Homo sapiens: one gene and its partner. The protein of the gene in region 1 purifies or fractionates together with the protein of each later gene. This does not show direct contact. Each region holds a gene or a part of one and is shown on either strand. Other genes may lie near its edges.

Region 1 (4,412 bases):
AATATTAAATTTGACTTCAGTTTTGACAATTATAGTTAATAGTCTAATTACTGTATTCAAATACTGGTTAATCAAATACAGTAATTAACAGCTAAAAGCATTAGCCAATGGAAACTACACATATTAAGCATAACCAATCGTTTGACTTTACTTACTGAATTTTTTTTGCTTTTGAGACAGGGTCTCGCCATGTTGCCCAGGCTGGAGTGCAGTGGCACGATCACAGCTCACTGCAGCCTCCACCTCCCAGCTCAAAGGATCTTCCCACTTCAGCCTCCCAAGTAGCTGGGACTACAGGCGTGTACCACCACACCATGCTAATTTTTTTTTTTGTAGAGATGGGGTCTCACTATGTCGCCCAGACTAAAATTTTTAATTGATAAACTATATATTTAACAAGGAAAAATTGCTACAGCAGCTGTAATAACCAATATTCTACATTTCAACACACCACAAAATACACATTTTTAATTTAAAACGTATTAGGGAGCTGATATTTAAAGAAAATGATTTTTTTTTTGGTTTTGCTTATGTATATTTTTTATACAAGTCATTATTCCTTAGGTTAATTGGACATGACTATCTAGGTTGAAGAGCAGTAAGTGGAAGTTTGAATAAAGAACAGACAGGCTAAAGATGATCTTAATTGTACATAGATATACAAATTCTATATATTCAAAATATTCATGGAAAGAACAATTCCCTTCCCCTAGCCACCCGGCCACATAAACGTGAGACGTAATGTTCAGAATGATAAAGCCATGGAAACCTAGAACATCAATTAAAAAAAAAAAAAACAAAAAAAACTCTGCTTTCAAAGCCAAAGCTTCTTTCTTACTGCTCAATATAGAGTTGAAAACCCAGTACTAAGTGCTGTTGTACTTCAACATTAAGTGGATATTAAGCACGTTTTCAGAAATCACAATAAACTTTTATTTTTATAGAGAAAAAATGTTTTATTCTTTATTTCTAGTTTCTAATGATTTAAAATGCTACATGATTTTGTGGAGGTATTGCAATGCCTTGTTCAACAAAGGAACTATTATTACTCAGCATTATTACATAACTATGTGTGCTCTTCTAAAAATATATCTGTCACTATGTTTATAATTGCATGATAGTATGTAAAATAATTTACACCATCAATATGAACTTCATCAAAAAGTCAATTTCAATACGCAATTAGCATAAGATCACTTGTACTCTTAGAAAAACGAATGTTATTTCATAGGCATATTATATGTTTTTAAACAAGCAGATTTTGAAATGTCCTTATAACTGACCATCTCAAAATGTTTTACATTTAACACAGTGCTTTGAATTGTATCAAATTTTTTAAACCTATCACAAGACAATAAATACAGTTGTAGAAGTTTTTCAATGTAACTTTCAATTATAAATGACACCTCAAGAATTTTACCTCTTTATCTTTTCGATCCAAGAGGATATGTTGTACAGGAGGAATTAAATTTTCAACTGCCTTCCCCACATCACTGCGGAATGAATCACTAGCTGGAAGGCAACTGAATATGGGAAAAATACAATATTCAATTAAAATACTGACATTAAATACTTTATAATTCCATATGACAAGGTTTGTTGGTATTGGACAAAAAGGGGATTTTTAAATTATAGTTAATTTAATGCAGGCATTAAATTAAATAATGTTATAAAAATATTGTCCTTCAAATAAAAATCCACCTAATTTTTGCACTTAGAAGTTAAATTGGAATTAAAAATCTAACTTAAGAAGTTCTGAAGTGTTTTATCAAAGTTAAATATTTATAATACATACATTTTCTTAAAGTCAGGTTGTACCCTAAATTCTGAATCTTTTACTTTTGATGACTGTCCTAATTTATTACTTGCTGCATACCTGGCAGGTAGTTTGTAAATATAACTTTGCCCATTTTCTGTCCAAATGATGACTTTATCTGATGAGACAAAGTCCCCCCCGGTCCATGTCTGTCCATTTTCACTAGGACCTGAACACAACAAGGAATAGTCTCCGGCATCGAACACCTGCAAGGAAGAAAGAAATTCACAATCTACTCCATATTGTTGTAAAAAGTAAGATCCAGTGACATTTCAAGTTTAAAAAAAAAGCCTGGAAATGTATTTAGAAAACTCAGTTTGCTGCATCAGATAAAGAAAGTTTGTCAATAAGCCCTGGGAGAGGTCACCTTCAATAGGGAAGACACAACTAGGCCCCTAGTTATGGGTAACCTCCCTGTGGACAGGGAATAGGCTATGACAAGTGGAGCGAGGGTGCTCCCCACTACAGGAACAGTTATCCTCAGACTTTCTATCTAGTGAAAGTATTCCATTAAAGAATTGCAAATAATAGGGAATCAACCTCAAATATACAGGCTTGAGCCCTGTTTTATTTCTATGTCTAGTAACAGCATTTTTTTTTTTTTCTTGAGACAAAGTCTTGCTCTGCCACCCAGGCTGAAGTGCAGTGGCACAATCAGAGCTCACTGCAACCTCAAACTCCTGGGCTCAAGTGATTCTCCTACCTCAGCCTAGCTGGGACTGTAAGAGCATGCCACCATGCCCTGCTAACTTTTTTATTTCTTATTTCTTGTAGAGACAGGGTCTCACCATGTTGCCCAGGCTGGTCTCGAACTCCTGGGCTCAAGTGATCCTCCCACCCTGGCCTCCTAAAGTGCTGGGATTACAGGCATGAGCCACCTTGCCTGGCCCAGTAGCAACATTTCTAACAATAAACTCTGGCATGGGAATAACTCATTATTATAAGGGAGTTACTTTGCTCTACATTATTTCATCAATGTTCTAAAATACTATAGTTAACAGGCTCAATTTTACTATGTAATAATTTTCACATATAAAATTCAAATCCCTATAATTTCACCAGCAGTAAAGGCTACTAACCTTATAGGGCTTTACATTTGCAAGGCACTGCAAAGTTTACAAAGTACCTTTACAATTATTATCTCATATGACCCTGAGAATCACCGCAGATGTTACTATTCCAGTTTACAGACAAGAAATGGACACAAATAAAGATTTGATCAATTGCTCAAAGTCATGTGTCCAGTAAGTGATAGAGCCAAAGCTAAAAACTCTGCTCTTATAATTCCTAGCAGAATTATTCTATCACTTTTAATATTTGAAAAAAGTACATTAAATGTTGTTAGAAAATTTTCCCAGGAGGAATGAGTAATTCCTCATTCCTCAATAGATCAGAGGTTTTATTTTACTTTTCTTTAAAGAAAACAATGAAGTTGCTTGTATACAGCCTTGAAGTTAGAACACATCCTAGCTGCATTTACCATGATTTCTTATAATATTTATCAGTGTATAACATCAGCACTACAATTATAGCCAAGAAAACTCCAAGAAAGAGTAAGGAAGGGAAACTAGCCCTCCAGCCCTATTATCTGTTAAAGCAAATCATACAACTATAAAAGTTAGAACAATATAGTATTAATTCATGAATGGGCAGACAAATCCAGAAGTCTGAAAACAGATTCCAATAATGTAGGAATATAGTATATTATCAAGGGACAACAGACGAATGAATTATTCAACAAATGGCATCAGGAACTGGGGGGGTCCATCTGACATAAAAATAAAATTGGATCTATATCTCACAATTTATACAAAATAAATTCCAGATTAAAGATTCAAAGGTATGTAAGACAAAACCATATAGGCCAGGCACGGTGGCTCATGCCTATAATCCCAGCCCTTTGGGAGGCCAAGGCAAGCTGACCACTTGATGCCAGGAGTTCAAGACCAGCCTGAGCAACAAGGTGAAACCCATCTCTACTAAAAATACAAAAATTGGTCAGGCGTGGTGGTCCATGCCTGTGATCCCAGCTACTTGGGAGGCTGAGGCAGGAGAATCCCTTGAACCTGAGAGGCAGAGGTTACAGTGAGCCGAGATTGCACCATTGCACTCCAGCCTGGGCGACAGCAAGACTCTGTCTCAAAACAAACAGACAAAATTAAAAATAAAACCATATAAAAATTAGGGGAAAATGAAAGATTTGAATCTCAGCTTATGGTAAGCCCAATTGAAAACTTCTTCATGATAATAAGTATCTTAAAAAGCCATTCTGGTGGGTTGTAGTACTATCTCAGTATTGTCTTAATATGATGATTAGTGAAGTTGAGCACCTTTCTATACATTTACTGGCCATCTGGCTTTCATCTTTTGTGAAATATTTTTGTCCAATTTCCTGCTGAGTGTTCCGTAGTTTTCTTCCTGATTTGCAGGAGTTGGGTTTTTTAATAAATACTGGACAATTCTTCATCATCTATGTATATTGTAATTATCTCCTCTGACTACGTGAGTTGTCTTTTTACTCTTATGTATGCATTTTAAGAAAGAAAAAGCTGTTCTCACATAATTACAAAATGTTTATAATGGACACAAATGAAAC
Region 2 (3,956 bases), on another chromosome or scaffold:
AGTTCTATGGTGGGAGGGCCTGATATTTTTTCCTTGAAGCAAAAACTAAAAACATAAAACACCTATAACATATTCACATCAAAAATAGTATCTACTAGTAATATCTCTAAAAGTGTCAAGATTCATAACCAACTTAATTTTTCTTAAATTTAAATTTTGTTATTATATTAAATTTACCCTATATTTTCCTTTCAAGTTTCATTCAAAGGGATACTGACGTATATATGGTCTACAAGGCTCAATTTGTTCATTTCAGAACTTACTTGAGATTTTATGGCAAACTGTTCATAACTTGGCAGTATTTTTTTTTTAAATGCTCTCTGGGTGAGGAAAAGACCTAATTACATTATGCTTTTCTAGGTAGGAGCATACATTAATGCTAATTTAAAAAAAACTCAATGTTTTAAAAACCAAATTATAATTGTTAATAGTGGATTATTACAAAATGAGGGGAAAAAACCCAGAAACCACATTTTTAGGTACTTAAAATAATTGTTTAATAAGAATCTGTTAAATTTTGCTAAACTCAGAAAGATTCAGTTGGATCTTTTATACTATTGAGCAGAAAATTAGTAAAAATGAACAGCATAACGAGTCTTTGTGCACTCGCTCATAGTACTATGATTTACAGGATAAATAGTGCATATTAAGAGTTTGCTGTTTATGATAGTCTCGGGGGGAAAAAAAGTTAAAACTGTTGTGAAGGTAGCAAAGATGTTTCCAAAAAAAACCTTCATGGTATTTTTTTTTTTAAGAGACAGGGTCTTGCTCTATTGTCCAGGCTGTAGTGCAGTGGCACAATCAGTTCACTGCCAGCTCAACCTCCTGGGCTCAAGCATCATCCCACCTCAGCCTCCTGAGTAGCTAGGACTATAGGCATGAGGCACCATATCTGGCTAATTTTTTTTTGTTTTCATAGAGATGGGGGTCTCAACTATGTTGCCCAGACTGGTCTTAAACTCCTAGGTTCAAGTGATCCTCCTGCCTCAGCCTCCCAAAGAGCTGAATTTACAGGCATAAGCCCCTGTGCCTAGCCAATGGCATCATTTTAATAAAAATTATTTAAAATTATTTTCTGTGAAAGTAAGTAAAAATGTTATCAGTACGGAGTTTAGTTTTACCTTGGCTTCTGTCTCGGCTTTCTCCAATATCAGTGCTTGTAGTTGCAATTGTATCTGCTAAGGCCATCAAAGACATCTGCTCCATCCGGCTGAGTCCTGGTAAACTAGAATGAAGTAAGTGGCCAGAAAGAACCTGAGCATGCTCAGGTCCAAAGTAAGTCGGACTGTACTGTGAAAGGTCAATAACTCTAGGCTTTGTATTTTCTTCATCTGTCTCTAACATATGAGTATCAGTCATTAGAAGTTGAGTCTGAAAAAGCTCATCATAACTTTCTTTAGATAATTGGTTTGATTTACTTAACGTACTCTCATTACTAGATTTCTCCAAAGATGAGTAACAGCTATCATCATCTGCTGCAAGTAAGGCATATAAAGGAAGTGGAGGAACAGAATCTATTTCTGTGTAATCTGTATTTTCAGCCTTGTTGAATGCCTGGGGGTCTCTGGTAGTGCTTCCACTAGCACTGATTGTGAGAGACCTAAGGCGGCGTTCATGATTAGATTCAGCTTCATTCAGAGCCACAACTTCCCCAGCAATGCACTTAACAAGATGGGACAAGATGGCCTTGGCTCTCCGAACTTTACCAAGATCCATGAGTTCCAAAAGCTGCAAGGGATGATACTGAGGTAGAGTCGGGGAAAGTACATGAGCTGCTTCAAAAAGACCTGAATCTTCCATATCCACTGAAGGATCGAATGCAGTTTTCTTTCCACAGATTTTCTGTGCAAGACTGGTCATGGATCGAGTCAGAGTTTTCTTTGGAGGATGTAACCCAGAACTGGAGTTACTCTGTTTTATTAAACTTGTTATAGATGGAGTGCTCCCACTGTACGAATCTGTTATAACAGGTTCTTGTTTAGAAGATGGTTGCCATTGGCAATACACATGCATTTCACAGTCCATTCCTACCACAAGGATGCCATCCCGGACCCACGATAAAGAAACAGGAAAAGGTGGGGAGCCATCTACAGAAGAAACTAGGTCCACACTTCGTAATAGTACAAATTTAGAAAGGGGCACAACTTTGGTACTCTCCCAGAGAGGAAATGCCAGGGTTTCCTTACCAGTTTGGTCTTGTACCTTGCCAGCCAGGGGTCCATACATAAAAAGTTTTGATCCAATTCCTACAGTCAGGATATGAGAACCGTCTTCTCTAGACATCCAATCTAAGTGAACTAAATGCTTTGTGTTTGATGTGATATTCTCTTTACTAGATAAATACATGTCTTGTTTATTATAGGCCACTAAATTGCTATCAACACTAATGCCAGAATCCAATACTGTGCTTAACTCATCTAAATGAATTGTCTGCTCAAGGACCCAACATGAACCTCCTGTTGACTCACATTCAAAAATACTTACATGCATCACAAAGTCCTGGGAAGATCTACTATTAGATGCAGGCTGCTTATAAGCTACTGCTAAACGATTTGTATGTGCACAGCTAACTTCTACAGGCCTACCAGGTACAGTTATACTACTATTGCTCTGAAGTCCATCTTCAATAAGTAATGGCCATTCTTCCCAAATGTATGCAAGATCAATTTTTCCATTCTTTGACGTGGCAGATTCTCCATCTGTTACTCTGCATCTCCAGAATCTTACTTTCTCATCTGAACATGAAGTTGCCAATAAATAAGGAGCACTGCATGCAGGATATATAGAAGATGAACTCAGATGTCCTAAAATAAAAATAATCCGTTAACAAAATGTCAAATTTGGTTAAATACTTCTGTTTTTATGTACTTACGATTTTAGTCTTTTGTATTAACTACTATAAATATGAACAAAATCAAAGGGGCATCTTGGCTGTATGTTTTTTAAACTGCATAATAGACAGCCTATATTTATTTAAGTTAAAAAGGGGCAGCAAGAATAGTAAGAAAGAGGCTTTTAATGACATCAGAAAGGTATATAAAAAGAAAGTATCACCAAAACCTAGAGTTGAAAGGGAACTCTGAGATAATTTACTTCAATTCTTGAAGGTTAAACATCTTGGGCCTAAATCAAACAACTTAGGCATAGGCAGAATTTAATTCTAGTTAATCCCGAATTTGTTTCACAGCTCTTTGCTAGTTTTATACATTATAAATCTAATTTTAAAGGTATCAATGCATTTTTTTAAATTTGTCAACACTCACTGGCTCCTTCTCTTTCACATTTTTCAATATAAATGTGAATGGCCTATGTTTACTTAAGTACTGAATGGTCACTTTACAGGGCCCTTCATGATTGAGGTATATTTGCCATAACAAATGCTGAGAAGATTCCTAACTACAACTTAACATTTGCTTAGACTTAAAGTAATCATGCACTATTAGTTTCCTAAAACATAAGCCTTAATTTGTATTTTTGATTAGTATTCTTGATACTCCAGAACAGTGGTTCTTGACCTTTTGCAAGCATAAGAATCACTTTAAAGGTTTGTAAGTCCAGGCCACTGGGCCCCATCCCAGAGTCTGAGATTCAGTAACCCTGGGTGGCCCAAGAAATGGAGTGGCCAATTTCTAACAAGTTTCCAGGACGCTGATGCTGCTGGCCTGGGGACACTTTGAAAACCACTGCTCTGGAATAAGGATAATAAATATATAGCAGAAACCACACAATCAGAATCATGGCTCCAGGCAGCTATTGCCAATACCATCAAAGTCTGCAAATAAAGTACAACTTAGTTACCATCTCCGCTCCAGAAACTGTCCCTTTGTCTTCCCAAAAAGACAAAGAAAATTTGTTTTAGAAATCAATATTTAAGACTAGAACTGGCTGATAAATGTCAGAGTAATCTGAAAACATAATGAGAACTATAAGTCTTCAATTTAGGGTACTTGAATATA

The links.
Region 2: the proteins of WDR7 (region 1) and DMXL1 purify together in Homo sapiens (affinity purification with mass spectrometry; one large-scale study listed by BioGRID and IntAct). This does not show direct contact.

The regions. Positions count from the first base shown.
Region 1 is NC_000018.10:56,688,826-56,693,237, reverse strand, and holds part of WDR7 (WD repeat-containing protein 7), read right to left. Parts: intron 2,023-4,412; coding exon 1,877-2,022; intron 1,524-1,876; coding exon 1,421-1,523; intron 1-1,420.
Region 2 is NC_000005.10:119,147,587-119,151,542, reverse strand, and holds part of DMXL1 (dmX-like protein 1), read right to left. Parts: intron 2,805-3,956; coding exon 1,122-2,804; intron 1-1,121.